7 linked regions of the Homo sapiens genome follow. Changing the gene in region 1 together with any one later gene gives a genetic interaction. Each region holds a gene or a part of one and is shown in the gene's direction. Other genes may lie near its edges. The genes, in order: SPPL3, DNAJB2, KIF11, DNAI2, LETMD1, TMEM38A and MTOR.

The links.
Region 2: changes in SPPL3 (region 1) and DNAJB2 together harm fitness less than expected from each alone (positive genetic interaction), as found in Homo sapiens cells (one large-scale study listed by BioGRID).
Region 3: changes in SPPL3 (region 1) and KIF11 together harm fitness less than expected from each alone (positive genetic interaction), as found in Homo sapiens cells (one large-scale study listed by BioGRID).
Region 4: changes in SPPL3 (region 1) and DNAI2 together harm fitness less than expected from each alone (positive genetic interaction), as found in Homo sapiens cells (one large-scale study listed by BioGRID).
Region 5: changes in SPPL3 (region 1) and LETMD1 together harm fitness less than expected from each alone (positive genetic interaction), as found in Homo sapiens cells (one large-scale study listed by BioGRID).
Region 6: changes in SPPL3 (region 1) and TMEM38A together harm fitness less than expected from each alone (positive genetic interaction), as found in Homo sapiens cells (one large-scale study listed by BioGRID).
Region 7: changes in SPPL3 (region 1) and MTOR together harm fitness less than expected from each alone (positive genetic interaction), as found in Homo sapiens cells (one large-scale study listed by BioGRID).

The regions. Positions count from the first base shown.
Region 1 is NC_000012.12:120,762,010-120,765,184, reverse strand, and holds the end of SPPL3 (signal peptide peptidase-like 3), read left to right. Parts: intron 1-114; coding exon 115-186; 3' UTR 187-2,675; downstream 2,676-3,175.
Region 2 is NC_000002.12:219,277,233-219,282,165, forward strand, and holds the start of DNAJB2 (dnaJ homolog subfamily B member 2), read left to right. Parts: upstream 1-2,133; 5' UTR 2,134-2,286; intron 2,287-2,565; 5' UTR 2,566-2,601; coding exon 2,602-2,666; intron 2,667-3,345; coding exon 3,346-3,455; intron 3,456-4,485; coding exon 4,486-4,539; intron 4,540-4,706; coding exon 4,707-4,829; intron 4,830-4,933. UniProt on the Homo sapiens protein: Functions as a co-chaperone, regulating the substrate binding and activating the ATPase activity of chaperones of the HSP70/heat shock protein 70 family. In parallel, also contributes to the ubiquitin-dependent proteasomal degradation of misfolded proteins.
Region 3 is NC_000010.11:92,598,980-92,603,433, forward strand, and holds part of KIF11 (kinesin-like protein KIF11), read left to right. Parts: intron 1-4,454. UniProt on the Homo sapiens protein: Motor protein required for establishing a bipolar spindle and thus contributing to chromosome congression during mitosis. Required in non-mitotic cells for transport of secretory proteins from the Golgi complex to the cell surface.
Region 4 is NC_000017.11:74,283,916-74,288,369, forward strand, and holds part of DNAI2 (dynein axonemal intermediate chain 2), read left to right. Parts: intron 1-1,124; coding exon 1,125-1,286; intron 1,287-3,061; coding exon 3,062-3,183; intron 3,184-4,454. UniProt on the Homo sapiens protein: Part of the dynein complex of respiratory cilia.
Region 5 is NC_000012.12:51,057,373-51,060,924, forward strand, and holds the end of LETMD1 (LETM1 domain-containing protein 1), read left to right. Parts: intron 1-633; coding exon of another isoform or gene 634-659; coding exon 660-756; intron 757-1,231; exon of another isoform or gene 1,232-1,366; intron 1,367-1,988; coding exon 1,989-2,059; coding exon of another isoform or gene 2,060-2,063; 3' UTR 2,064-3,052; downstream 3,053-3,552. UniProt on the Homo sapiens protein: Plays an essential role for mitochondrial structure and function, as well as thermogenesis of brown adipocytes.
Region 6 is NC_000019.10:16,659,228-16,664,339, forward strand, and holds the start of TMEM38A (trimeric intracellular cation channel type A), read left to right. Parts: upstream 1-1,911; 5' UTR 1,912-1,990; coding exon 1,991-2,114; intron 2,115-5,112. Other genes in the region: SMIM7 (small integral membrane protein 7 isoform 1 precursor), read right to left, coding at 168-220, 732-773, 858-883. UniProt on the Homo sapiens protein: Intracellular monovalent cation channel required for maintenance of rapid intracellular calcium release. Acts as a potassium counter-ion channel that functions in synchronization with calcium release from intracellular stores.
Region 7 is NC_000001.11:11,105,101-11,109,313, reverse strand, and holds the end of MTOR (serine/threonine-protein kinase mTOR), read left to right. Parts: coding exon 1-24; intron 25-1,027; coding exon 1,028-1,133; intron 1,134-1,813; coding exon 1,814-1,829; 3' UTR 1,830-2,779; downstream 2,780-4,213. UniProt on the Homo sapiens protein: Serine/threonine protein kinase which is a central regulator of cellular metabolism, growth and survival in response to hormones, growth factors, nutrients, energy and stress signals.

The DNA.
Region 1 (3,175 bases):
CAATATATAGGAAGACTTCATACCTGGAAAAAAAATTTTTTTTTTTTAAAGAATCAGACAGCTGTGTGTGCCTCATGTTTAAATCTGTAACTTAGAAAGTCCCTTGTTTCCCAGGGCGACCTCCGGCGGATGTGGTCTGAGCCTTTCCACTCCAAGTCCAGCAGCTCCCGATTCCTGGAAGTATGATGGATCACGTGGAAAGTGACCAGATGGCCGTCATAGTCCTTTTCTCTCAACTCATGGTTTGTTTCCTCTTAGAGCTGGCCTGGTACTCAGAAATGTACCTGTGTTTAAGGAACTGCCGTGTGACTGGATTTGGCATTTAAAGGGAGCTCGTTTGCAGGAGAGAGGTGCTGGAGCCCTGTTTGGTTCCTTCTCTTCCTGCGGATGTAGAGGTGGGGCCCCTTCCAAGAGGGACAGGCCTCTCCCCAGCGCGCCTTCCTCCCACGTTTTTATGGATCTGCACCAGACTGTTACCTTCTGGGGGAGATGGAGATTTGACTGTTTAAAAACTGAAAACAGCGAGGAGTCTTTCTAGAACTTTTGAACACTAAAAGGATGAAAAAAATTAGCAAACCGAAGTTTCTTCAATGACCCCTCGAGAACTTTGGGACCAGTTTCCTATAGGGGACTCAGTTTCAGAGAACTGAGACAGAAGCTCTTCTGTCGTTATATTCTTCTTTCCTTTTTTTGGATTTATTAAATATTTTCTGTGGTGTGAAGTGACTTATTAAATCCACAGACATTGAGTGACTTCTTACAACATCCACATAAGAATTTGTTGTAATGAGTTCATGTCCACCCAGATGTTGTGTTGGCAGTGAACAAGGGCACGGTTTTTATACATACGTACATATATATATATAAACACACACATAGATATATATGAATAAACAAAAATGAAATCCTGCTAAGATCACGCTGTGTAGCTGACAGGGGCTTGCTGTCGTTTTGAGCATGTCGAGCAGTTTACTGTGGCTTCCTTGTATATGGATAAGCTGCTGTCCTTCCCCTTCACAACTGACCCCGCAGTTACAAACTAGTATAGCATTTGTGCTGATTGATGATAGACTCATGGACTTCAGGAGCCCTTACTTGGTTTTGATCAGTGTAGCAAATTAGGGATGAAGAGTTCAAACCTTTTGGCCCTTTCTTTCTTTTCTAGGCTTCTCCCTCGCAGGGTGTTCCGTAGTTTCTTCTCGAGCCAATGCATGTATTATAGCAGCAGGTGTCTTTGTGCTTTCTCATCATAGTAACGTACTACTTGTAAATACATTTTTCTATTTTCTATTTTTTTGTATTTTTTTTTTTGACATTTTGTTTCATTGGTGTGCTGTATATTTTCCATGCCCTCACTCCTTTAAGAAAAAAAAAAAGGAAAAAAGCAACACAATCCTGTCCTTGCTGTTGTGATTATAGTCTTGGTTTACCTGTGGTGACAACCGGGTGTTGGGGACACATGTCAAATGCCCCTCTGAGATGGGCCCTAAATTCCAGTAACTGGGGAAAGAACCAGCTGCTGTGTCCTGAGAGCCTGGCCCTGTGCTGTGGTCTCTGCTGCAAGCCCAGATTTCTGGGAGTAACTAGTGTTAGGTCTGCTGACCTTTACCTAAGCAGCCCCTGCCTGGTAAGAAGGTGCCCATTGTTCAGAGGCAAAGAGAAGCCTGCGGTTGGCATGAGGATGCCTGACAACAAAGGCTGGAGAAGGGCCCTGAGTTCCAGCCTCTCCCCAAGGGTCCCCGCCCCAGTGGCTGCCTCTGTCTTGACCTGTGTAATGAATTAGTGTGCTGTGTCACTGTGGCTTGAAGTCACTGTGGATCGAGCTCACAGGGGGCACCCATCCTGTTGTCAACAGAGTCTGAAGCAGTCAGGGTGTTGGATTCCTCTGTTGTTGTCATCAATTCCTGCTGAGGGGTTTCTGGGGTTTTGTTTTTAATAAATGACTCCTTTGTAGCCTTTGTCACATAATCTTCACTTTGGTTGTTGGTACCAAACAGAGCTCCCAGCCATCTCCTCCCTGTTCTGGAAGACTGATGGGAAGACTCTGTCTGTCCCCAGACCTGGTCATCTGCAGCTCTGGCCCAGTCATAGATACATCAAAGAACTGAAGCTTCTGCTGTCCACAGAACTCAAAACTGCCTCTGCATTGGGTGAAGACTAAAAATCCACTTGCGGACTCTCCCTTCCTTCCTTCTCAGCCCTCGAGGATGCATATAGCTAATTAAGCAGGCCCAGAGACAGAGAGGGGGGCTCCAAAATGACTCGGATTAAGGGCAAGTGCCAGTGATGGGTAGAAATAACGTTATCCTTCATGCCTGTAATCCCAGCACTTTGGGAGGCCGAGGCAGGTGGATCACAAGGTTGGGAGCTCGAGACCAGCCTGGCCAACATGGTGAAACCCCGTCTCTACTAAAAACACAAAAATTAGCTGGGCATGGTGGCAGGCGCCTGTAATCCCAGCTATTTGGGAGGCTGAGGCAGAAGAATCGCTTGAACCTGGAAGGCGGAGGTTGCAGTGAGCAGAGATTGCGCCACTGCACTCAAGTCTGGGCGACAGGGTGAGACTCCATCTCAAAAAAAAAAAAAAAAAGGAAATGTTATCCTGGCAGTGGGTCATTTTAATTTTTCTGTCTTTGTTTTCATAAGAAAATTAAATTCCAGACAGAAGGAACGTCGTTATTTTGTCATTCTCACTTCTGTGCAGGTTTTGGGGGGAAATACCCACACAGGGCTGTGAATGCACCCTGGATTCCAGTTGCTAATCTTCAAAGCCCTTAAAACACTCCCTTAAAACTTTGGCAGAGAAACAGCAAATACTCTACTCGTCTCGGAGGGTTGAGTGGGTGGCTGCAGTTAAAGCACACATTAGACTTCCCTTCCAGTGCTCGTTTGCTCCCCGCTGCCTGATACACTTAGGTCCGCCTCTTATTCTGTTTTCTCAAATACCATGGTTTAGGGGTTTTCTAGGAAGTCTGCTGCATTAGGCATGGCATGCTCATGAAATTTCAGCAGATTCCTTCCTCACTGATCTGAAGTCCTTTTTCCTCACAAAGAGACTGTGTGTTACTAGAACTCCCGCTTTTTAATAACTCTTTTTTCTAGTTTGAGCTAATGAAGATATGACAGTAAAGTCTGTCCAAAGCCTAGTGTGTTCCATTGCTGTTATTACAGTGCA
Region 2 (4,933 bases), on another chromosome or scaffold:
CTTTGTCCATTTAAAAATGTCATTGTCTTTCATTAGTTGGCATTTCTTTGTGGACAAAGGAAATTAAACCTTTGTCTGCTAGATGTGCTCCATATAATTTCCCTCAGTTGTCATTTGTCTATGTCCTATCCCCTTGAGCACAGAGATTGGAATTTAAACTTTTTTATATTCTTTTTCTTAATATAACAAGACATACACGGTAGGTGCTAGACAAATGTCTGTTGGCACAGCAGAGTAAGAAGAAAAAGGCAGAGATCTGGAAAATTTGGAGTGACTTAACCCAACCACTCCTTCCTCTTATACCAAGTCTAACCCTTAGTCTTTGTGTCAGTCAGGACTCTTATAAACAGCAGAAGCTAACTGGCAAATTGTTTCAAGTCCCCTGCCCCCAACAATTATAGAGATATCGGATAGCACACAGAATCAATGCAAGGGCCAGCAAACAAGGGTCAGCAATCAGACAGGCACCTAGGGAAGCTGGGCAGCCAGTACCACAGTCAAGGTTGGGCACAGGACAGCCTGTGTAGGAGACTCCTGTCCCCTCCACCCTCCGCAGTGATCCTCCTACTCTCGTCCCTCACCTGCGGCAGTAGCGCTGACACTTCCTCCTCCAGACACTAGAGGCCGCTGTTGGCCCCATCGCCTCCACCGCCGCCGCAGAAATGAATTCCTAAACCAGCCTTGCTATTCCGTGACTTGCTCCAGATTCAAAGTCCCAGTTGGAGCATCCGATTGGCGGAGCTCATGTCTTCTGCCTGCAACCCCAGAGCCGAGTCAGGGAGAGCAAGCATTGGGGCTTTGTGGCAAATGGTGGCCTGCTTTCCATTAGGGCCCTTGCGATGGGAATTCCCCAAATGTAGGCAGGAGGTTCTGATGGTGGGCAGCCAGGAAACCAGGACACTCACACCACCTTCTTCTCTCACGTCCGCCTCAAACCCTTCTCGTTGGCGAAGTATTCCTGGGTCCCCCAGCCTAAAGCACTTTTCTGGACTCACATAACCATTATTGCTTGAGCCAATCACGATGCCAGCAGGACCGCAGTAACACCTAATTCGTACCATGTCTCATTTGACTTTCAAACAACCCTAGGCACTACCTATATTTAGTGAGAAAAAAAGAGTGCTCAGAGATTTTCCCAAGTCTCACAGTAATGCCAGGTTGTACTCTGTTTCCAAAGCCTCGGGTTTCCCAGCGGGCTACACTGATGGGCTGGTATCTTATCAAGTTCAAGCTCTGCAAAGGCAGGGCTTGGGCCACATTCTTCTTTATACGGCCTGGCAGCATCTTGAATGCAGAAAAATGCTCAGCTAACGCCTTTGGATTGGCCTGGATGGGATCAAGCAGGAGCCAGTTCTGGAAGGTTTCCTAACTCTCCAATGAGGCCTGAACCCAGGGAGCATTTTGAAGTGGAATAGGCCTACTCAGGATCAGTTTGGGAAGACTTGAACCTGGGGAATTCCGTTGTACGGCCCCCTTTACCTCACCTCCCCCAAATGTGTCAAAACTGTCAACAAGAGGTTTGCAGGTGTTCATTATTTATTCATCCCACGGGTAGTTTTGAACCCCTACGACTGCTCTAATAGACCAGTGAGAAAAAACACACAATTCCTGTCCTGTGAAATCGACATTCTAGTGGGGGAGGTGAATGGTAATAAAAAATAATCAAACCAATAAATGCTAATTTGTGGCTCTAACAAGCCTGATGAAGGAAATGCCACGAGATGCTGTAAAAGGCAGTTCTGACCTACTCAGGAAAGCCAGGGCAGCCTGCTGGGGGACCTGGGGCTGGAGCTGGGAGCTGAAGAAGGGGGAGGAGTTAGAACCGTGGTGGGGGGAGGGAGGGAAGAGTCTGAGTCCTCGAGGTGGGTGAGTAAGCATGGATCATCGCTCATGTTTATAAGAAAGTGACAGAGGAACCTGGGGGCCGAGCGGCTTGTTTGTGGGCTGCCCCAGCCTCCGTGCGAGCGCTTCTCGCTTGGATGGAGGCGGGGCCGCAGTCTCCCAGGTCCCAGCTGGGGCTGACGTCGTCCTGGTGTGTGCCCAAAATAGCCGGCTCCGCCCTCTTCTCCCGGCAGCCCCTGCAGGCCCCCACCCCCCCAGGGGACAGGCGGAGCCGGCCTTCTCCCCGTCTCTAGTAGTTTCCGCACCGCTGACGCATGCCTGCGCGCACAGCTGGGCCGGGCGCGTCCTACGCAGCAGCCGCGAGCCGGGCTGCGGGTGCCAGACGGTTCCCGGCGGGGGGCAGGGGCGGGGCGCCGCAGGAGGCCGGGACTCCTGGCGGAGGAGGTGCGGCCGGGGGCCCGGGTCAGGCTGGGGGCCCTGGATCGGACTGCTGGAGTTGGGGGGCCCCGATAGGGCTCCTGGGCCTGGGCGTCGAGATAGCTCTTGGCCCCGGCCTGCGGGGGCAGATAAGGCTGCCGGAGGGAGCCTAGTCACCGGCCGCAAGCAGAGCCCGGTGTGCTCCGCTTCCAACTGGGAGCGCCTTCCGCCACCCGGGGAGGGGGACTGCTGCAGCCACAGGGTGGGGCTCTTGGTTCTTTCCGCCTGACTCCTTCTCTTCTGCAGCCCCAAGGAGGCCCGCCTGACGACTGACCAGTTGCCATGGCATCCTACTACGAGATCCTAGACGTGCCGCGAAGTGCGTCCGCTGATGACATCAAGAAGGCGTAAGTGCCTCCGTATGCAACAGAAGACCTCTCACCCTCCACCCGCCACCACCATGGGGCACTTCAGAGTGACACCTGTAGGTGTCTGAGGGAACCAGGTCGTTAGAAAGCACTGGGGTGCTTCTTCCGAGTGACACCTGCAGGGAGGAAAGAGACCCCTGGTAGAGTACAAGGAGAACGTCCAGAGAGTGAAGTAGTTAGTTCCTCTGGGAGCTGCACTGTGTTATGGGTTGTTCTCCAGTTGATCTTCCCCTCCTCCTCCTCCTCCTCCTCCTTTCCCCTCCCCTCCCCCTTCCCCCTAGATTTGGGCATTCTCAGGCTGCAGTGCAAAGATGCAGTGCAAAGAGGCTCTATGAGGAGGAGGGGCCGGTGTCCCTGTACTCTTCGAGGCCACATGTGCCCCAACCTTTGCAGCCCCAGTCCAGTGAGCCCTAGGGAGGGGCTAGGGACCCTGGCATTGTATCCGCTTGTACATGTGGTCCCAGCACTGGTGGCGGAGGAGAGAGGGTGGAACTTGATGAAAATATCACAGCAGCGGCAGCCCTAGCAGCTGGGGTGGACTGGGACCCGGGGGTGAAAGGACAGTGATAGGCTAATGGGAAAACAGGTCGTTCGGTTCCTGGGTGGGAAGTGCCTGCATTTGTCCCCCGACTCTCTCCTCTGCACCCACTTTCTGCAGGTATCGGCGCAAGGCTCTCCAGTGGCACCCAGACAAAAACCCAGATAATAAAGAGTTTGCTGAGAAGAAATTTAAGGAGGTGGCCGAGGCATATGAAGTGCTGTCTGACAGTAAGGGCCGGGGTCAGGCAGGACCCAGCACATCACCCCCTACTTCATGCCCCAGCTCACATTTTCTTAAAGCAATGTCTCTGCCACCTAGTTTCCTCTGTGCCTTTTTCCAGCCTGACATTTAAGCTCCCCCCTCCCACAGGGACAGCTCAGTGTCTGCTCCCCAGAGTCTGGTAGGAGTGGCTGGCATGAGACCTGAAAGGGGAAGGAAGCAGGGCAGGTAACTCATGTGAGCTGAGCCTCCTGCGTGCCAGGCATTGGTGGGTGTCATCTCCATGAGTTCTCACAGCCGTCCTATGAGGCAGGTTCTATCACCCCTATTTTACAGGCAAGGAAACTGAGGCTGAGAGAGGTGAAGTAACTTGCTCAAGGCCACGCAGAGCTGGAATATGAATCCAGGTCTGCCTTTTTATTGATTCATTCGAAAAGTAATTCAGTGAATGGTGACAGTGTCCGGCACTCGCTGGGTGCTGGGGAAACTGGAGGACAAGCAGGCACTGTCTTTGCCCAGAGGGGCAGGGAAGACCAACACCTACCAGGCACACACACAGACACAGTTACAGCTTGTGAAGAGTATTCCGAGGGAAGAAACAGGGCAGGTGGAGTGCTAGGGAATAATGTGCACTTGCTTTAGTTCTGGTGGTTGTAGAAGGCCTCTCCGAGAAGGTGACATTTAGGCTAAGCCCTGGTGAATAATAATGTAGTAATCATTAGCTAACATTTATTGAACACTTTCTATGTGTCAGGCACTGGTAGGCAGTTTACGTGGATGGTCTCATTTGATCTGTGCAACAACCCTGTGCGGTAGGTGTTGTGATGACAGCCATTTTCCAGATGAGAAGAGGCCAGCTGTGTGAAAGGCTGAGTTGCTGCCTAAACCTATAGCCCGTGTCCCCTGGGTCCCCTGCTGTGCCTGCTTTCCCCCGCCAAGTGTCAGAGTGTCAGTCTCTGGACAATCCTTTGAACGTCCTAGCCTGGGAGGGGAGCCCATCCCAGAGGGAGGGTGAAATGATCTGGTCTCTTTTTGCAGAGCACAAGCGGGAGATTTACGACCGCTATGGCCGGGAAGGGCTGACAGGGACAGGTAGGTGGAGTGGTGAGGCCCAGGAATGGAGGTGGGGCAGGGAGGAGAGGGGCAGGGCAGATTCTTGCAATGGAGGCTCTCTCAGGCTCCTGGCTGTGCCTTAGGTGAGGTCCCCCGCTCAGGGCAGGATGCATGCCCTAAGCTCTCTCCTCATCCTGCCTTTCCAGGAACTGGCCCATCTCGGGCAGAAGCTGGCAGTGGTGGGCCTGGCTTCACCTTCACCTTCCGCAGCCCCGAGGAGGTCTTCCGGGAATTCTTTGGGAGTGGAGACCCTTTTGCAGAGCTCTTTGGTGAGTGGACTCTGGAAGCCTCTGAATGGCTCAACTTCCCCCTCCAGGCCTGTCCTTCCATCAGCTGGGAGGCCCTGAGGTGGAAGGCTGAGAGGGGACGGGAA
Region 3 (4,454 bases), on another chromosome or scaffold:
GTTGGTCAGGCTGGTCACGAACTCTTGACCTCAGGTGATCCACCCACCTTGGCCTCCCAAAGTGCTGGGATTATAGGCGTGAGCCACTGCGCCTGGCCTCAGCAGTGTTTTATAGTTTTCATTTTATAAGTCTTTCACCTCCTTGGTTAAATTAATTACTAATATTTTATTCTTTTTGGTGCTATTTTAAATTGAGTTGTTTTTGTAATTTCCTTTTTAGATTGTTCATTCTTAGTGTATAAAAATGTAACTGGAGGCTGGACGCAGTGGCTCTCACCTGTTATCCCAGCACTTTGGGAGGCAAGGTGGGCCTCCCAACTCCTGATCACGAGATCAGGAGTTCAAGGCCAGCCTGGCCAACATAGTGAAACCCTGTCTCTACTAAAAATACAAAAATTAGCCATGCATCGTGGCGCGTGCCTGTAGTCCCAGCTACTTAGGAGGCTGAGGCAGGAGAATCGCTTGAACCTGGAAGGTGGAGGTTGTGGTGAGCCAAGATCGTGCCACTGTACTCCAGCCTGGGCAACAGAGTGAGACTCTGTCTCAAAAAAAAAAAAAAAGAAAAAAGAAACGTCGCTGGATTTTGCTTGTTGACTTTCTATCCAGCTACTTTGCTGAATTCACTTATTAGTTCTAACAGTTTTTTTTTGTGTGTGTGTAATTTTAGAGTTTTCTTTTCTTTTTTTTTTTTTGAGATGGAGTCTCGCTTTGTTGCCAGGCTGGAGTGCAGTGGCGCGATCTCGGCTCACTGCAACCTCTACCTCCCAGGTTCAAGCAATTCTCCTGCCTCAGCCTCCCGAGTAGCTGGGACTACAGGCACACGCTACGACGCCCAGCTAATTTTTGTATTTTTAGTAGAGACGGGGTTTCACCATGTTGGCCAGGATGGTCTCGATCTCTTGACCTCGTGATCCACCTGCCTCAGCCTCCCAAAGTTCTGGGATTACAGCCGTGAGCCACTGTGCCTGGCTTTTTTTTTTTTTTAATTAACTATTGAACTTCTGTTTATTATTATTATTATTATTTATTTATTTATTATTTTTTGAGATGAAATCTCGGTCTGTTGCCCAGGCGGGAGTGCAGTGGTGTGATCTCGGCTCACTGCAACCTCCGCCTCCCGGGTTCAAGCAATTCTGTGCCTCAGCCTCCGGAGTAGCTGGGATTATAGGCGCTCGCCACCATGCCCGGCCAATTTTTGTATTTTTAGTAGAGATAGGGTTTCATCATGTTGGTCAGGCTGGTCTTGAACTCCTGACCTCGTGATCCGCCCGCTTCGGCCTCCCAAAGTGTTGGGATTACAGGCGTGAGCCACTGCACTTGGCCTTATTTTTATTATTTTTTTCATCAACTTTTAAGTTCTGGGGTACATGTGCATGATGTGCAGGTTTATCACATAGGTAAACCTGTGCCATCACAGTTTGCTGCACAGATCAACCCATCACCTAGCTATTAAGCCCAGCATCCACTAGCTATTCTTCTTGATGCTCTAGCTCCTTTTGCCCCACTGAATTTTAGGGTTTTCTTTCTTTTCTATTTTTTTTTCTTTTGAGACAGACTCTCGCTCTGTCACCAGGCTGGAGTGCAGTGGCACAATCTTGGCTCATTGCAACCTCTGCCTCCTGGGTTCAAGCGATTCTCCTGCCTCAGCCTCCCGAGTAGCTGGGACTACAGGCATGCGCCCATGCCTAGCTAAGTTTTTGTAGTTTTAGTAGAGACAGGGTTTCACTATGTTGGCAAGGCTGGTCTCAAACTCCTGACCTCAAGTCCCCTTGGGGTTCCTGAAGTACTGGGATTATAGGTGTGAGCCACCACGCCCGGCCAGATTTTCTATATAAAAGATCATATAATCTGCAGACAGATAATTTTACTTTTTCCTTTTCTTTCTTTTTTTCTTTTTTTGAGATGGAGTCTCGCTCTGTCGCCCAGGCTGGAGCGCGGTGGCGCCATCTCTGCTTACTGTTACCTCTGCCTCCTGGGTTCAAGCAGTTCTCTGCCTCAGCCTCCCAAGTAGCTGGGATTACATGCACATGCCACCACGCCCAGCTAATTTTTGTATTTTTAGTAGAGATGGGAGTTCATCATCTTGGCTAGGCTGGTCTTGAACTCCTGACCTCGTGATCCATCCGCCTTGGCCTCCCAAAGTGCTGGGATTACAGGCATGAGCCACCGCTCTTGGCCCTCAACCTTTTCCTTTTCAATTTGGATGCCTTTTATTTTTATTTTTCTTCCTTTTTTTTTTGAGATGGAGTCTCGCTCTGTTGCCCAGGCTGGAATGCAGTGGTGCAATCTCTGCTCACTGCAACCTACGCCTCCTGGGTTCAAACGATTCTCCTGCCTCAGCCTTCCGAGTAGCTTGTACTACAGGCATGTGCCACCATAAACAGCTAATTTTTTTTTTTTCTCGTATTTTTAGTAGAGACGGGGTTTCGCCGTTTTAGCCAGGCTGGTCTCGATCTCCTGACCTCGCGATCCGCCTGCCTCAGCCTTCCAAAGTGCTGGGATTACAGGCGTGAGCCACCATGCCCGGCCCTTGTTTTTCTTTCTTGCCTAATTACTCTAGCTAGAACTTACAGTATTATGTCGAATGGAAGTGGCAAAAGTGGGCATTGGGCATCCTTGTCTTGCTCCTGTTCTTTTATTTGTTAGTTTGTTTGAGATCCTCCTGCCTCAGTTTCCTGAGTAGCTGGGACTATAGACACACTACTACACCCAGCTAATTAAAAAAATAATTTTTTTTTTTTTTTTAGAGATGGGGTCTCGCTATGTTTCCCATGCTGATCCTGAACTCCTGGCTTCGGGTGATCCTCTACTCTTACCCTCCCATAGTGCTGTGATTACAGGCATGAACCACTGTGCTGGCCCTGTTCTTGTTTTTAGAGGAACATTCTTCAGTCTTTGACCATCAATTATGTTTGCTGTGGGTTTTTCATATGTTGCTTTTATTTTGTTGAGGTAGTTTCACTCTATTCCTAGTTTGTTGAGCATTTTTATGACTAATGGGTTTTGAATTTTGTCACATGCTTTTCCTGCATCGATTGACATGATTCTGTGGTTTCCTTCATTCTGTTAATGTGGTATATTACATTGATCAATTTTTACATGTTGGACCATCCCTGTATTCCAGGAATAAATCCCACTTGGTCATGGTGTATAATCCTTGTGCTGCTCAGTTCAATGTGTTGGTATTTTGTTGAGGATTTTTTTTTATCAGTGTTCATAAGGGATAGTGATCTGTAGTTTTCTTGTAGTTGCCTTTGTCTGGCTTTGGTATCAGGGTAATGCTTGCCTCACAAAATGAGTTGGGAAGTGTTCTCTCCTTTGCCAGATTTTTTCTGGGAAAAGATTGAGAAGAACTGGTATTAGATCTTCTTGAAATGTTTTATAGAATTCACCTATGAAACTATCAGATCTAGGGCTTTTCTTTGTCAGGAGATTTTTGGTTAGTGAGTCCATCTCTTTACTGGTTATAGCTCCATTCAGAATTTCCATTTCTTTGTGATTTAGTCTTTGTAAGTATTGTGTTTCTAGGAATTTGTTCAGCTGGGTTATCCGATTTGTTGGCATACAATTGTTGAAAATACTCTTTCAACAATAAGAGAGAAGACACAAATAACTAGTTCTTTTGTTTCCAGTTCCTTAAGTTGTAAAGTTAGGGTGTTGATATGAGATCTTTCTTGCTTTTTAATGTAAGCATTCATAGCTATAAATTTCCCCCTTAGCACTGCTTTTGCTGTGTCCCGTAAGTTTTGGTATGTTGTATTTTCATTTTCATTAATCTCTAAAATTTTCTAATTTTCCTTGTGATGTCTTTGAACCCTGGTTACTTAAACACACACACACACACACGTGTGTGTGTGTGTGTGTGTGTGTGTGTGTGGTTTTTTGTTTGTTTTGAGACTGAGTTTCGCTCTTGTTGCCCAGGCTGGGGTGCAATGGCGCGATCTCGGCTCACTGCAACCTCTGCCTCCCGGTTCAAGCGATTCTCCTGTCTCAGCCTCCAGAGTAGCTGGGATTACAGGCGCCTGCCACCACGCCTGGCTAATTTCACACACACATTTAAAAAATACATCTACCTGCTTTTACTTCAGAATCTTTGCAATTTCTGTTCTCTCTGCCTGAAAATTTTTTCCACCAAAATATCTACAGGGCCTGGCTCCCTTGCTTTTTAGGTTCTGCTTAAATATCACCTGCGTAGAAGCATTCCCTAACTACCCTAAAATAGCAACCAACTATCTTCCACCCTCAACACTTCCTATCCCCCTTAAACTGCTTTCTTTTCTTTTCTTTTTTTTTTTTTTTTTTTGAGACAGAGTCTCGCTCTGTTGCCCAGGCCTGGAGTGCAGTGGCGCATTCTTGGCTCACCGCAACCTCCACTTCAGCCTCCCAAGTAGCTGGGACTGTAGGTGGCTGCCACCATGCCTGGCTAATTTTTTTTTTTTTGAGATGGAGTCTCA
Region 4 (4,454 bases), on another chromosome or scaffold:
TCACCTGAGGTCAGGAGTTCAAAACCAGCCTGGCCAACATGGTGAAACCCCGTCTCTACTAAAAATACAAAAATTAGCCGGCCATGATGGCGAGCACCTGTAATCCCAGCTACTGGGGAGGCTGAAGCAGGAGACTCACTTGAATCCAGGAGGCGAAGGTTGCAGTGAGCCGAGATTCCGCCATTGCATTCCAGCCTGGGCAACAAGAGCGAAACTCCTTTTCAAAAAAAAAAAAAAAAAGCTGTAGTGAGTCAAGATCATGCCACTGCACTCCAGCCTGGGCAACAGAGTGAGAGACCCTCTCTTAAAAAAAAAAAAAAGGAAAGAAGGGAAAGTGGCGACACCCACGTGTAAAACTGTCCTCCCTGCTAGAGAGGATAGGCAAAGCAAATCCAAACTTGGAGTTTTAACGTTCAATTTTTGTGACACTGACATTGTCAGTGATAGGGTGGCATTGTTAATGATAGAGTGAAGAAAGGCTATTCACTTTTTCTTTTTTCTTTTTCTTTTTTTTTGAGACGGAGTCTCGCTCTGTCGCCCAGGCTGGAGTGTAGTGCTGTGATCTCGGCTCACTGCAACCTCTGCCTCCCAGGTTCAAGTGATTCTCCTGCCTCAGCCTCCCGAGTAGCTGGGACTACAGGCGCCCACCACCACGCCCGGCTAATGTTTTGTATTTTTAGTAGAGACGGGGTTTCACCGTGTTAGCGAGGACGGTCTCGATCTCCTGACCTCGTGATCTGCTCGCCTCGGCCTCCCAAAGTGCTGGGATTACAGGTGTGAGCCACTGCACCCGGCCAATTATTCACCTTTTCTTTGGATTCTCACAGAGCAGATGGACAGGCTTCTCTGGTCCATTAGAATTCAGATAAGGTCAGAACAGGATTTTCATGACCACAGCTACCAGTTGCAAAGCTGCTTAGCTCCACAGGGTTGCGCTGTTGCAGCTACCTGTGCCCACCTGATCACCAGGAATTTCCTTGCCTGCATTTGAAAATACTGTGGCTCCGGCCAGGGCGCCTCAGCATCCAGCCCTGGGAGCCCCCGTGGGACCTGGCTTGCAGAAGTGGCCGAGGGTTTGGGAGTATACCAGGGTGACGTCTTCCCTCCTGCGGCTCTCTGTTTAGGCCAACTCAGAGCGGTTTGAGATGGAGACCCGGGGAGTTAACCATGTCGAGGGGGGCTGGCCCAAGGACGTGAACCCCCTGGAGCTGGAGCAGACCATCCGTTTCCGGAAGAAAGTGGAGAAAGATGAGAACTACGTTAACGCCATCATGCAGCTCGGCTCTGTAAGGCTTCCTCCTGCCCCAGCTGCAAGAGCCCCATCCATCACTGCAGCTCCCCAAGGGATGCACTGCCCCAGCTGTGCCTGGCCATCGCTGTGAGGCTCGTGTGAATGCTGGGGGGAAGGGGACCAGCTGCTACCTCAAGGAGCCTTCTGTCTGGGAGCAGGCAGAGGTCCCAATCACAGACCAACAGGGAAGGCAGGGAGGTACAAGGGCTGACCAGGCATCAGGAGGAGTCTGACCTTGGGCAAAGGTGACTCCCAAAGTGCCCCACCCAGCAGCCAATAGGGATCATTCATTCATTTGACAAATTTGGACTGAACTTCAAGCCTCTGCCAGGCACAGTAGAGGTTGCAAAATGAATCTCATAATTGTTCTACATACTTGCCAGTGCAAAAAAAAAAAATTGTTTTAAGGAAAAAGAAATTTAAAATTTAAATTAAAAGAAAAAGAATCTCTTATACATCCTGTCCCAAAGAGATTGCAGTCCATTGGAGGTCAAAGACAAATACAGAGACATCACCAGATAACATAAAAAGAAAGAAATGCTGAAAGAGAAGCATGACTTGTCCTTTGACTCCATGAGGAGGGAGGGTCAATCTCCTGCTGAAGGGAACAGGGAAGGCTTCCTGGAAGAAGTGGCAGGGCTTGGTTGTCCTTTGGTGGACATTTGCAATAAAGGGGAGGGCATTCTGGATGGAGGAACCAGCTGTCTGCAAGGACAGGAAGAAGGAGATGAGTGCCATATACACACACACACATATATATATATAGAGAGAGAGAGAGAGAGAGAGAGAGATTAATAATTTTATTTGGGCTGGGCTTGGTGGCTCACACCTGTAATCCCAGCACTTTGGGAGGCAGAGGCAGGCAGATCACTCGAGCTCAGGAGTTTGAGACCAGCCTGGCCAACATAGCAAAACCCCATCTCTACTAAAAATACAAAAATTAGCCAGGTGTGGTGGCACATGCCTGTAGTCCCAGCTACTTAGGAGGCCGAGGCAGGAGAATTGCTTGAACCCGAGAGACGGAAGCTGCAGTGAGTCCAGATCGCACCCCTGCACTCTAACCTGGGCAGCAGAGCAAGACTGTGTCTCAAAATAATAATAATAATAATAATAATAATAATAATAATAATAATTTTGTTTGTCTAGCATGGTGTTCTTCAACCTTTTCTTCATTATTGGCCTTCATGTTTTTTCTAATGGCCTTCTGCCTCCATAAAATGTTTGTTGTTGTTGAGACAGAGTCTCATTCTGTCACCCAGGCTTGAGTGCAGTGGCGTGATCTTGGGTCTCTGCAATCTCCACCTCCCGGGTTCAAGCAATTCTCCTGCCTCAGCCTCCCAAGTAGCTGGGATTACAGGCGGCTGCCACCATGCCCAGCTAATTTTCTTTTGTATTTTTGGTAGAGATGGGGTTTTACTATGTTGGCCGGGCTGGTCTCAAACTCCTGACCTCAAGTGATCCACCCGCTTCGGCCTCCCAAAGTGCTGGGATTACAGGCGTGAGCCACCGCACCCAGCCCATCAAATGTTAATGCTATAGACATACTGTATATCTGTTCATGCGCTGCATGTATTTCCATGCTTTGTACCTAAAAAGCAATATTATTTTACCCCCAGGAACCAATTGAAAATTCCTCCATTGAAAGCACATGGTTAGGTGGATGGGAAAAGCCCCTGGCTATGTCCTGTCCCTCCCAGACTCCATTGCAGGCCTGGGCAATCTGAAAGGACCTCCATTTACTGCGGAGAACTTCCAATGTGTCCCCCCTAGATCATGGAGCACTGCATCAAGCAGAACAATGCCATTGACATCTATGAAGAGTATTTCAATGACGAGGAGGCCATGGAAGTGATGGAGGAGGACCCTTCAGCTAAAACCATCAATGTGTTCAGGTAGCGCCATAGCCAGGCAGGTGTCTGGCCACCCTCCGTCACCCCCATGCATGGGCGCCTCCAAAGGCAACTCCTTGCCATCGCTGCATGCCCTGGGTGCAGCACTGTCTGTGCTCTGAGCTTGATAAGTGACGTGGTGATAAGTCACCCAGCAGAGAAGTGGCCCTGCTCTGGGGGCGGGTCTGGTTGATGGAAAGGGAGTACAGACTCCAGAGAAAGTGAAATTGCCCAGCTGCGTACAGGTGGGGCATGTTCCTGCAGGGCAGAGTAAGTACAAGTACCAAGCATGAGCAGCTAGCAGCACTGTGGGCACACAGGCCCCCGCCGCGGCCTGCACTCATGCGAGTATATCCATGAATAACTCCAGAGGATAGAAGTTTGACACCAGGGATTCATCCCACAGGTTGTGTGTGTGTGTGTGTGTGAAATCACCGCAGGCGTGGATATTCACTGCAGAGGGTGTATGCCAGCCAAAGACTAGAACAAGCTAAGTCCATCCATAGGGGACTGGTTCTAGCAGTTCTGGCACACCCACACGACGGAATGCCATGCACCTGGTAAAGCGAGCGGGGCAGTCTGGGCATGGTGGCTCACGCCTGTAATCCCAGCACTTTGGGAGGCCAAGGCGGGTGCATCACCTGAGGTCAGGAGTTCAAGACTAGCCTGGCCAACATGGCAAAACCCCGTCTCTACTAAAAATACAAAAATTAACTGGGTGTGGTGGCACATGCCTGTAATCCCAGCTACTCGGGATGCTGAGGCAGGAGAATCACTTGAACCTGGGAGGCGGAGGTTGCAGTGAGCCGAGATCGCACCACTGCACTGCAGCCTGGGCAATACAGCAAGACTCTGTCTCAAAAAAAAAAAAAAAGCAGTGCAACTTCTTATGTGCTGATATGGAGTCATTTCCAGGATTCAGTATGTGAAAACCAAACCAAAACAAAGCCGGTGCAGAACAGGGTGTGCAGAGTGCCACTTTTTGTGGCAGTCCCCAACTTAAACCATTTTTTGTCTTTGCAAGGCTGCAAAAGCAATGCAAATCCAGGAGAAACCGTACTTCAAGTACCCATACAACCATTCTGTTTTCCACCCTCAGTACAGTATTCAGAAAATTACATGAGCTGTTCACCTCTTTATTATAAAATAAGCTTTGTGCTAGGTGATTTTGCCCAACTATAGGCTAATATAAGTGTTCTGAGCACATAGGCTGGACTAAGATGTGATGCTGGGTAGGTTAGGTGTATTCAATGCATTTTCAGCTCCTGATATTT
Region 5 (3,552 bases), about 70 Mb from region 1:
AGGCATGAGCCACTGCGCCCAGCTCCTCACCTCATTTCTGTGTCTTTTTTCTCAAGAAACTTAGCTAGGGGGAAGGAATTGCCCACAGAAATTTTGGTTTGTATTTCTTTTCTTCTGGCACTTCAGAAAGCAAGGATACTGCAGTTTAGACCTACTATTTTAGCTTATATAGGACTCTTTGCTTTTGTCATCTTGTCCATCACTAGTTTTCAAATTGCCATGAGGAAAGGCTTCATGTGGGAATGAGATTGTAACTTTTTTTTTTTTTTTTGAGACAGAGTCTCGCTCTGTTGCCCAGGCTGGAGTGCAGTGGCATGATCTTGGCTCACTGCAACCTCCGCCTCCCAGGTTCCAGTGATTCTCCTGCCTCAGCCTCCCGAGTAGCTGGGACTGCAGGTGCATGCCACCACGCCTGGCTAATTTTTGTATTTTTTAGTAGAGATGGTGTTTCACCATATTGGCCAGGCTGGTCTCCAACTCCTGACCTCGTGATCCGCCTACCTCGGCCTCCCAAAGTGCTGGGATTACAGGCACGAGCCACCGTGCCCGGTGAGATTGTAACTTATTTAAAGGAGATTTAGGATTGTTTGTGGATTTCCATTTCCTTGGCATAATCATTCTATGATTATTAAGGACCATTTCTGTTCTGAGTGGTATAGGCTTGTTATCTCCGTGGCCTGAATTCTACGCATATTGGTGAAGATAGGTGTCGAACTTGGCTGGGAGAATGGCTGCAGATTTCCTGCAGCCTGAAAGGTAAAACACATTTCTGTGGTTATACCACTAAAATCCAAGTCACTTTTGTATTTTATTCTGAGGTCATTTTGGAGTTAATTATTGAGTACTGTGAGACATATATATACATACATCTAATTGAAAGGGCACAAACTCACATGCCTACTGCATGCCCGGCAGGTAACGAAGTAGGCCATAAGACAAGAGGGAGTAGTGGGGACTGTGGAAACCTAAGAGTGAATGCATGCTAGTGTGAATTTTCCAACCTTGGCACTTCCTTATGGGGGGAATATCCTGTGCTTTATTTATTTATTTATTTATTTATTTTGAGACGGGGTTTCGCTCTTGTTGCCCAGGCTGGAGTGCAATGGTGCGATCTCGGCTCACCGTAACCTCTGCCTCCTGGGTTCAAGTGATTCTCCTGTCTCAGCCTCCCAAGTAGCTGGGATTACAGGCATGCACCACCACGCCCAGCTAATTTCGTATTTTTTTTTAGTAGAGACCAGGTTTCTCCATGTTGGTCAGGCTGATCTCGAACTCCCGACCTCAGGTGATCCGCTGGCCTCGGCCTCCCAAAGTTTTGGGATCACTGGCGTGAGCCACCATGTCCAGCCTATCCTGTTCTTTATAGGTATTTATTATAGCAGTATCCCTAGCCTCTACCCACTAGATGCCAGTAGCACCCCTTCACCCACAGTTGTCTCAACCAAAAATGTCTCTAGACATTGCCAAATGTCCTAGGGGTGGGGAGGAGAGAGGCAGGATTGTCCCCGTTGAGAAGTACTGGTCTAAAGGCATTCAAACTCAGAAAAAAAACAGTCTGCTGACCAAACACAAAGCATCTGAGGGTATGTATTAGGCTTGTTTGCCCCCTGTTTAGGCTAGGTCTTGATGTTTTGTGGGCCTTTGGATGTTAGGGTAGGCCTACTAATCTTGAAGCTGAGAAATGTCCCTAGAGCACCAACTTCTACCAGAAGAATCCCAACGCGACTGGTGTTTAGTACCATTACCATCTCTGAATTTTCTACTGCAATCACATGAGAAATAGAGGATGAGTTGATACGAATATATAGTAGAAGGAAAGGAAGGCATGCATACAGGGGCTGAAACAAAGAAGGGGAACTTTGAGAAAAACAGCTTCTTCATTCCACCCCTCCCTGCACTTGGCTTCCTGCCTCCAGGCTTAAGCCATATATAACAAGGCAGTTATAAGGCAGTGTTCCCAAGCCAAACCACTAACACTGTGTTTTCAGAAGCTGAGCTGTCTCTCTTGCTGCACAACGTGGTCCTGCTCTCCACCAACTACCTTGGGACAAGGCGCTGAATGAACCATGGAGCGGATGGCATTGTCCTGCAGTCGTATAGTATAGCAGTGCAGGAACAAACAGCACTTGCCAGCAAAGTCTGTGTGTACTGTTAAGTGTGTGGGAGGCAGAGAGAGGAGCAGGGGCCATGGGCTTCACAGCATGGCACACATGTGGGAACTGCAGACATTCCTCTCACAGCTAGAACTGAAACAAACCCTCTTGCTAGGGGTGGTCCGTGTGAGGTGTCATCCTGTCCCCCTCATAATTACTAATAGCTGGAACTGGCAGCAGCCTCTACTGGGCTTTTACTGTGATGTGTTCAGTTCATGTCCTAGGAAGTCAGCTTTTGCCCCAGGTGGGAATCCTTATTTGGCTTAGGACTGATCCACTTCCATGTTACTTACATCTGTGGGTTTTTGTTGTTGCTGTTAGAAAATTTGTGGCTGGTGAAAACAGCACTCCTTTGGCTGGAGCACATGTGTCCGTGCATGTACTTGGGTGTTTCCCTCCATCCTTTCTGATATGACCAAAAATCAAGTTGTTTTGTTTTTTGTCACCTTCACTGGCATGGGCTAACCACTTCTTTTTCAAACCCTCTGAACACCTTTTTCTGATGGGTAACTTGCAGGAATATTCTATTGGAAAAGATAACAGGAAGTACAAGTGCTTCTTGACCCCTTCCTCAATGTTTCTAGCCTTCACTCTCCATTGTCTTTTCTGGGCTGTATTACAGCCCTCTGTGGATCTTCAACTCTGCTGCCTCCACTGTGATGCAGCAGTCCAACTGTAACTGACAGTGGCTGCCTTCTCTGGGCCATGGATCACACCTGTAAGGTACTAATTACTGCCCAGCCTGGGGAGATCAGGAGAGGTCTGCATAGTTAGTAAGTTGGGTTTAGCTTTTGTGTGTGCATCAGTGACTTAGAGTTCTGTAATAACTTATTGTAAATGCATGAAGCACTGTTTTTAAACCCAAGTAAAGACTGCTTGAAACCTGTTGATGGAAATGACTTATGCATACTCTAATCATTTTGCTGTCTCCTTTTACAAGACTGACATAATCTAACAAATGGGGATTTAATTGGTTGGCATAGAACCTTCTGATGGGATGGAAGTTTTGCAGAAACTGATTTGAAGTTGATCTCCTTGCTGGACACTTTAAGGTGATAACAAGGAAAAGAGAATTTCATAAAGTTAATGGAATGAGGCCGGGCGCGGCGGCTCACGCCTGTAATCCCAGCACTTTGGGAGGCTGAGGCGAGCGGATCACAAGGTCAGGAGATCAAGACCATCCTGGCTAACACGGTGAAACCCCGTCTCAACTAAAATAGCAAAAAATTAGCCAGGCGTGGTGGTGGGCGCCTGTAGTCCCAGCTACTCAGGAGGCTGAGGCAGGAGAATGGCGTGAACCCGGGAGGCGGAGCTTGCAGTGAGCCGAGATTACGACACTGCACTCCAGTCTGGGCGACAGAATGAGATTCTGTCTCAAAAAAAAAAAAAAAAAAAAAGT
Region 6 (5,112 bases), on another chromosome or scaffold:
AGCCATGATCGCACCACTGCACTCCAACCTGGACAACAGAGCAAGACCTTGTGTCAAAAAAAAAAAAAAAAAAAAAAGAGAAAGAAAGAAAACGAAGGTAGGGCTTGGCGAAACAGAACTGTCCTCTGAAGTGGACCATGCAATTCCAGGATCCAATTAGACCTTACCTGTGCTGGGCTCCCTGGACTCCTCCCCAAAGCCCTGCGTGTCCTTCTTTTTCCTACAAAGAGGAGCAGACAGTGTCCACTTTCAATGGGACATAGAGTCCTCAGCCCCCTGACCCCCAGCTCAGAAGGCCACAAACACTAAGTTTCAGCCCTGGCCCTGCCGCAAACTTGCTGTGTGACCTCTGACGTTCAATACCCTTCTCTGGGCCCCCACTGCCCGGACAATCACAGCCAGGTCAGCAGCCACCGACCGTTTACAAAGTGGCCCGACAGTGCGGGTGCAGGGCGGAAGGTCCGCGGTGGGGCTATTTCTTGGGGGATGGGGCTTAAGCTCTCCAGGAAGGTGAACAGAGGGACAACCAAGGAACGGAGAGTATGGGTTTAAGGTCTCTCGGGGGGTGGGGGGCGAGGAAGATAAACCAGGCTGGAGGCGTGCCCAGAGGGCGGATAGGGCGGGGCCTGCGGCTTGGGGGCGGGGCCTGAGAAGTGCGCCGAGATCACGCTTATGAGGGCGGGGCTACGGGTTCCCCGGATGGAGCCGCAGTCCGGCCGCGACCTACTCACAGCTTAAAGTTCAGCACCGCCCCGGCATTCATCAGCAACGTCCTGCAGAGGGAGAATTACAGTTACTAGGGGCGCCCCCGCGTCCTGCCTGGCTCTCTCTTCCCAGCCTCTGGTCCCCCTAATTACCCGAACAGCAGGATGTCTCCGATCATCGTTACGGCCGAAGCGTCCGTCAGAACCGGAAGCGGAAGCCCCAGGGAGGGAGGGGAGAGGAGCACAAGCCGACCAATCCTAAAGCAACAGTGGCGAGGGCTGGGCCAATCGAAGGTCAAGGCTGGGAGGGTCCCGCCCTCTGCAGGCCAGACCCCCTTAGGGGAGCGCGAGCGCCCCACCTCGCTGGGGAGGCCCCGAGAGCCAGAATGGGAGGAGCGGGGTCTCCTGGGGGCGGGATTGGGTCACGCGTTCGAAGCGTGCCGCGCATGCGTGAGGTCTCGATGCCGTAGGGTTAGCTGGGCAGCAATTCCTACTCACTTTCTGGGGTCCCAAATTGGGCTTCTGGACAAAAGGAATCCTTTGACTCCTGAGCTGCACAGGGTGCGGGGTCCTGACGCAGTGGGGTCCCTAGAAACGGGTGCCCCAACCAACTGGGCTCTAAAATGAGATCCTCCTGGGCCCCATGGGGAACGGGGGTTCCCACTGAGCTGCCCCCCACAAGACGTCCTGATTTGCAGAGCCCCACCGGAGACGGGGTTCCTGATCGAACGGACCCTATGGGGCAGAAAAGTCTTGACGGGGCTCCACAGAGGACCGAGGTCCTAACCTATCTCCACGGGGAACAGGGGTTCTGATTCATGGGGTCCCACCATGGCGTAGGGGTCCTCACTGGGCTCCACCGAAGATCGGGGTCCTAATTGAGCCCACGGGGACAAAGTCCTGGCCGATCCGGCCCCCTGGGAACGGGCGTCCCGCGTGGGTGGGCTCCGTGAGGGACGGGCCCCCAGAACAGGCAGCTCCCCAGCCTCCCTCGCCTTGCACGGGTGCCCCGCACCCCGCCTCGCTGGGCGGAACGGGGTAGCGATGGCAGGAGGGTCAACGCCTGGGACGCCCGACCGTCCAGCTGCGTCCGTGGTGCTGGGCGTCCCCACCACCTGTCCCGGGGTGGGCCGTCGCCCCTCCTCTCCCGCGGGGGCCGGGCCTGGGGTGGCGCCTGGCGGGCGGGGGCGGGCCCAGCTGCGGGGGCGCAGTCGCCGGGCCGCGGGCGGCGGGACGGACGAGGCCGGGGCCCCGGGTGGCACCCGGCAGGCGGGCAGGCGGGCGCCATGGAGCTGCTCTCGGCGCTGAGCCTGGGCGAACTGGCGCTCAGCTTCTCGCGGGTGCCGCTCTTCCCCGTCTTCGACCTCAGTTACTTCATCGTCTCCATCCTCTACCTCAAGTATGAGCCAGGTGAGCCGGGGCGGGGGGCTGGAGGGGACCGGCAGCGGGTGGCGCGGGCCGGGGCAGCTCGGGGGTCGCAGAGAGGGGAAGCCCGTGCGTGGTGGAGGGAGCGAGGGACAGGTTCAAGGATTGCATCGTGGGAGTAGGCAGGCGCTAGAATCGTGGGGTTCTCTCACGCCGGGGTGAGCCCGGGGGAGAAGCCCCCAGGACGATGAAGCTGGGGGAGGGGAAGGAGAGGCGTGCGCGGGTTTAGAGGAGGGGGAACAGGTGCTTGGGGTCGGGGCTCCTGGTTGGGTCAGAGCTGCAGGAACTTGGGCAAGGGGCGCCGGCTGTGGCGAGGGTGCAGGTGGGGGTCGGTGCATCTGTTCTGGCCGCGCGCAGGTGTGACCTCCCTCCTTGACCTTGGCACGCGGATTGAGAGCGCCAGCGGAGTGTCTATAAGGGCCACTGCGCTGGGGGCTGCGGTCAGGTTCAGCGAAAGTGACACCGGTTCTCCTCCCCACTGCAACTGCCCAGCACCCTCCACTCCCCTCCCTTCCCCCACGGTGCTGAATCTCCGAGCCCCCACGGGAATTCTTCCAGCCCTGGCTCCAGATCCTTTCCACTTACGGAGCAGAACCGGCCCCAAGGCTGGGTGACTTGGGGTCAGTGTCCTCCATCTCAGCTCCAGACTCCACGCTGGGGAGGTCACAGGAGGGTACAGCCTGCTTCTTAATTTTTAAAATGAGGATGAATGGCTTCCTTAGAACGTGTTCTATTTTTATAAAAGGTTCACCGTGAACAAATGTTTAAATGTTTCTTGTTCACCGTTATTCTAGAACACCAGCAACTTACTAGATAATAGATTTTAGGCTTAGAAAAATAAAGGAACCCCAAACTTCATAAGCCTTTCTCCCACTTAGATGTAAATTACCACTATAGCTCAGAAAGGAAATAGCTTTATTCTCAGAGGATAAAAATAAGCGCCCCTGTTTACTAAAAACTCAAACTGAAAAGGGCAAAGGAAAAAAAGAGAATTACTGTCAACATACTGGTGGCCAGCCACCTTTCTTGATGTCTCTTCTATTCATTTACGGCTATATAGTTATAAACGTAAATGCACGCTTTTTTTTTTTTTTTTTTTTTTGCGGTTTTTTTTTTAGATGGAGTTTCGCTCTGTCGCCCAGGCTGGAGTGCAGTGGCGTGATCTCGGCTCACTGCAACCTCCACCTTCCAGGTTCAAGCGATTCTCCTGCCTCAGCCTTCTGAGTAGCTGGGACTACAGGCACCCGCCACTACACTTGGCTAATTTTTGTATTTTTAGTAGAGACAAGCCTTCACCATGTTGGCCAGGATAGTCTCGATCTCCTGACCTTGTGATCCACCCACCTAGGCCTCCCAAAGTGCTGGGATTACAGACGTGAGCCACTGCACCCAGCCAATGCACGCTCTTATGCTAACAGGATTACACTCTATTTGCTAGGAATTTTTATTCTATTTTTGCCTATCCACATGCCAGAGCCTATTTTCTTAAAAGCTATCCTGGAGAACATTACTTTGCAAAACAAAATAGGCTTTTGTGTTGTCCTAGCATGAACATGGGGCTATCTTTCCTTTCTGGGGAAGAATTCTTGGTGGTTCAGGCCAGTTCCTTGGGCAGTTGCAGAACCTTAGAAAATCTGAAACTGGCTGGGCACAGTGGCTCACGCCTGTAATCCCAGCACTTTGGGAGGCCAAGACGGGCAGATCGCCTGAGGTCAGGAGTTCGAGACCAGCCTGGCCAACATGGAGAAACCCCGTCTCTACTGAAAATAAAAAAATTAGCCAGGCATGGTGGCACATGCTTGTAATCCTAGCTGCTTGGGAGGCTGAGGCAGGAGAATCACTTGAACCTGGGAGGCGGAGGTTGCAGTGAGCCGAGATCACGCCATTGCACTCCAGCCTGGGCGACAGAGCAAGACTCTGTCTCGAAAAAAAAAAAAATCTGAAACTGAGGAGGGTTGGAGCCCTGTGGGAATGTAGGACACAAATGTCTTGAGAAAAGAGGTCTCCAAGCTGCCTGGGAACTTGCAGGAAGGTTCAAGATATTTCTGCAGAAGTCCTAGAATAAGCCATCCAGGCTCTAAGTGCCAGAGCCTGAAGGTTCCTGAAGGCTGAGAAGTGGTTCCAAACCCTGGCTATTCATGAATTCATGAGACGCTCCTGGGAGCTTTTTTTCTTTTCTTTTTTTTTTTTGAAACGGAGTCTCGCTCTGTCGCCCAGGCTGGAGTGCGGTGGCGCCGCCTCTGCTCACTGCAAGCTCCGCCTCCTGGGTTCACACCATTCTCCTGCCTCAGCCTCCCAAGTAGCTGGGACTACAGGCGCCCACCACCATGCCCGGCTAATTTTTTTTTTTTTTGTATTTTTAGTAGAGACAGGGTTTCACCGTATTAGCCAGGATGGTCTCGATTTCCTGACCTTGTGATCCGCCTGCCTCGGCCTCCCAAAGTGCTGGGATTACAGGTGTGAGCCACTGCGCCCGGCCTCCTAGGAGCTTTTAAACCCCCTATCTCCACCCCCCACCAATTGAATCAGAATATTAATCTCCCCTCCCTCAGTGACTGATGTCTGTTATCAGGGCTGAGGATACTCCACCCAGTTCAACCTCCTCCTTTCATAACTGGGGAAACAGGAAATAGTGGCTAAGCTATCTTAAATACACAATGAGCCTGTGGTCCCATGGCTGGTCAGTTGCAGCCTCGGGACTCAGCCCAGGTCTGCTTGACTCTAAGAATCAGTACAATTGATGTGAGATTGGTTTCCTTAGAAAAGAAAGGTGTTGGAGGCCAGATGTGATGGCTTATGCCTGTAATCCCAGCACTTTGGGAGGCGAGGCGGGTGGATCACTTGAGCCCAGGACTTTGAAACCAGCCTGGGCAACATGACAAAACCCCGTCTCCACTACAAATGCAAAAAAATAGCCAGGTGTGGTGGCGCACGCCTGTAATCCCAGGTACTTGGGAGGCTGAGACATGAGAATAGCTTGAAT
Region 7 (4,213 bases), on another chromosome or scaffold:
ACAGGGTTCGAGATAAGCTCACTGGTGAGTGTGTCATGTGTTTACTTAAAAGGGACATAAAATCTGAGCACACTTTCCTCTCTGAGTGGTGGTCAGCCCCATGTCCAGTGGTGTTAGTGACGAGCTTTGGCACCATGCAGCTGACAAAGAGTGTCTTTGAGGTCATCAGTTAAACATTGTCTCTGATTCTTCTTTCTGATGACTGATAACAGTACTTAATGTTAGTTTAATCTCATTTAACTCAGGAGGTGAATAAATTTCTTTTGGGTCCAAAATCAGCCAAATTCAGAGAAGTGTTTTTTAATCATGTCTTTTTTTTGTTTGTTTGAGACAGTTTTGCTCTTATTGCCCAGTCTGGAGTTCAGTGGCTCCATCTTGGCTCACTGCAACCTCTGCCTCCCAGGTTCAAACAATTCTCCTGCCTCAGCCTCCCGAGTAGCTGGGATTACAGGTGCACGCCCAGCTAATTTTTTGTGTTTTTAGTAGAGATGGGGTTTCACCATGTTGGGCAGGCTGGTCTCAAACTCCTGACCTCAAGTGATTCACCCACCGCACCCGGCCGAATTTTTCTTTTTTTCTTTTCTTTTTTTTTTTTTTTTTTGAGACAGGGTCTTGCTCTGTCACCCAGGCTGGAGTGCAGTGGTGCGATCTTGGCCCACTGCAACCTCCACCTTCCAGGTTCAAGTGATTCTCCTGCCTCAGGCTCCCAAGTAGCTGGGACTACAGGCATGTGCCACCACACTCGGCTAATTTTGTATTTTTAGTAAAGACAGGGTTTCACCATGTTGGCCAGGCTGGTGTTGAACTCCTGACCTCAGGTGATCTGCCTGCCTCAGCCTCCTAAAGTGCTGGGATTACAGGCGTGAGCCACCGCACCTGGCCAAACTTTTCAAATCCAACTATGATGGTATCCTTCATCTTCATGTCTGACGATAAGCTGTTGGCATAGACAGTTAAGCCCACAGGGAACAAGAAGTGCATCGATTGCCAGGAAGAGAGTGAAATGTTTTTGTTCCTCCTGTGCTAGGTCGGGACTTCTCTCATGATGACACTTTGGATGTTCCAACGCAAGTTGAGCTGCTCATCAAACAAGCGACATCCCATGAAAACCTCTGCCAGTGCTATATTGGCTGGTGAGTGGGGCTCTCAAAGTGACTTTGTTAAAATAAGCAATCAGGTCCCAAGCCTAGGCCCCAAAGCCAGAGTAGCAAAAAGAGATTTGGTGAGGTATCTGTAAAGGGCAGTTAGAGCTCAGATCTCTTTAAAAATTCATATTTACTGCATGTGCCCATTGTTATAAAAAAAGAAACTGAGAAATATGGATGCATACTTGGAAGGCAAACACTAAAATTAAAATTACATTAAGATAAGTGGTTCAGGAGAATAGGCAAGGCTTGTTTGTTTGTGAGGGGTTCCTTTTGGGTTTTGCTGTCAGTCCAGTGCAGAGATACAGGAAGGGCGAAGGAAAGAAAAAGCTAGAGCAGTGACAGAGAGAAGGAGATAAAAAGACAGATTTATGATCTGGGAGTCTAACCTCAAGGGCCACTCTGGGGTGTGCTTTGATTAATTGCCCAAGGCATGCTTGAAGGCAGAAACTTGAGAGAGCGGGCGCTGGGGAAGTGTCCTTGCGGGACCTCGGTGGGCATTAGCCTTGACTGGAAATGATGAGTGTGTCCCATGCAATTAGCTGTGGGAGAGCTCAGGGAATACCCTAGGGTTGTCAGACCTTGGCCTTTTCATTTTCAAGTTATCTGTGTAAACCTTTGAAGAAGCTCAAATTATTAAAATATTCCTTTTCTTTCTGCCTTCTTAGGTGCCCTTTCTGGTAACTGGAGGCCCAGATGTGCCCATCACGTTTTTTCTGAGGCTTTTGTACTTTAGTAAATGCTTCCACTAAACTGAAACCATGGTGAGAAAGTTTGACTTTGTTAAATATTTTGAAATGTAAATGAAAAGAACTACTGTATATTAAAAGTTGGTTTGAACCAACTTTCTAGCTGCTGTTGAAGAATATATTGTCAGAAACACAAGGCTTGATTTGGTTCCCAGGACAGTGAAACATAGTAATACCACGTAAATCAAGCCATTCATTTTGGGGAACAGAAGATCCATAACTTTAGAAATACGGGTTTTGACTTAACTCACAAGAGAACTCATCATAAGTACTTGCTGATGGAAGAATGACCTAGTTGCTCCTCTCAACATGGGTACAGCAAACTCAGCACAGCCAAGAAGCCTCAGGTCGTGGAGAACATGGATTAGGATCCTAGACTGTAAAGACACAGAAGATGCTGACCTCACCCCTGCCACCTATCCCAAGACCTCACTGGTCTGTGGACAGCAGCAGAAATGTTTGCAAGATAGGCCAAAATGAGTACAAAAGGTCTGTCTTCCATCAGACCCAGTGATGCTGCGACTCACACGCTTCAATTCAAGACCTGACCGCTAGTAGGGAGGTTTATTCAGATCGCTGGCAGCCTCGGCTGAGCAGATGCACAGAGGGGATCACTGTGCAGTGGGACCACCCTCACTGGCCTTCTGCAGCAGGGTTCTGGGATGTTTTCAGTGGTCAAAATACTCTGTTTAGAGCAAGGGCTCAGAAAACAGAAATACTGTCATGGAGGTGCTGAACACAGGGAAGGTCTGGTACATATTGGAAATTATGAGCAGAACAAATACTCAACTAAATGCACAAAGTATAAAGTGTAGCCATGTCTAGACACCATGTTGTATCAGAATAATTTTTGTGCCAATAAATGACATCAGAATTTTAAACATATGTATATGAGTGGCGTTTTAGTCATAATTTTGATCAGTTCAAAAAGGAAGCATTTACTCTCTTCAGCACTCAGCCTTCAGTAAACACTCTGTAGTAGGGATGACAGAGGACGTAAGGGTGTACGTGACATGGTCCCTTTCCTCAGACTGTTCCCAGGCCAGACAGGTGGAGACAGCATGCCACTGAAGTGAACAGAACTTACCCCGGCCAAGTGCTGAGAAGAGGCATGTATGGGCCACAGGTAGGAGCGTGTATTCCACCGGGTGAGCCTGGAAAGCCCCATAGAAAGGGGGACATTTGGCATGGGTCTTAAAGAGGGGTGGGAGTCTGTCAGATGAACCAAGGGGGGGGCATTCTCAGCAGAAAAGGAAGTGTGAGGCACTGCTGTAAAAGCAAGGTATCCATAGCAGTGGCAAGTATCAGTTGGACCATTTGAAATCACAGGTACGTGGACCATTTTTAATATACAAAACTGGCATTTTCTTATGGCTGCACCTCATAGTTCAGCATGTCTGGCTCAGTGGTCAGTGGGGAATAAAGGGAGTAACAGGAAAATAATAGGAACTAAAGGAGGCAGGAAAGCAGTACGGGGCCGGGGCCAGACCGGGGCCTCCCTCAGTTCAGCAGCAAGGAGTATGAACCTGATGCTGTGAAGTTTTAAAACGGAGTAGTATCTGAGTGGTGTTTTTTGTTTTTGTTTTTGTTGGAGACTGGGTCTCGCTCTGTCACCCAGGCTGAACTGCAGTGGCACAGTCATGGCTCACTGCAGCCTCGGCCCCCTGGGCTCAGGTGATCTTCCCGCCTCAGCCTCCCAATTAGCTGGGACTGCAGATGAGCACCCCCACCGCCAACTAATATTTGTATATTGGGGGAAATTCACCCCCGATATTTCACATAGGTTCTTTTCTATATTCCCTAAGTGTCAGCCGGTCTGAGAAAAGGGACAGAGTACAAAAGAGAAATTTTAAAGCTGGGTGTCCAGAGGAGACATCACATGTTGGCAGGTTCCATGATGCCCCCCTGAGCCATAAAACCAGCAAGTTTTTATTAGTGATTTTCAAAAGGGGAGGGAGTGTACGAATAGGGTGTGGGTCACAGAGATCACGTGCTTCACAAGGTAATAGAATATCACAAGGCAGTGGAGGCAGGGCAAGATCACAGGACCGGGGCAAAATTAATATTGCTAACGAAGTTTTGGGCACGCTTTGTCATTGATAACATCTTATCAGGAGACAGGGTTTGAGAGCAGACAACCAGTCTGACCAAAATTTATTAGGCGGGAATTTCCTCGTCCTAATAAGCCTGGGAGTGCTATGGGAGACTGGGGCTTATTTCATCCCTACAGCTTTCACCATAAAAGACGGCCGCCCCCGAAGCAGCCATTTCAGAGGCCTACCCTCAGGGATGCATTCTCTTTCTCAGGGATGTTCCTTG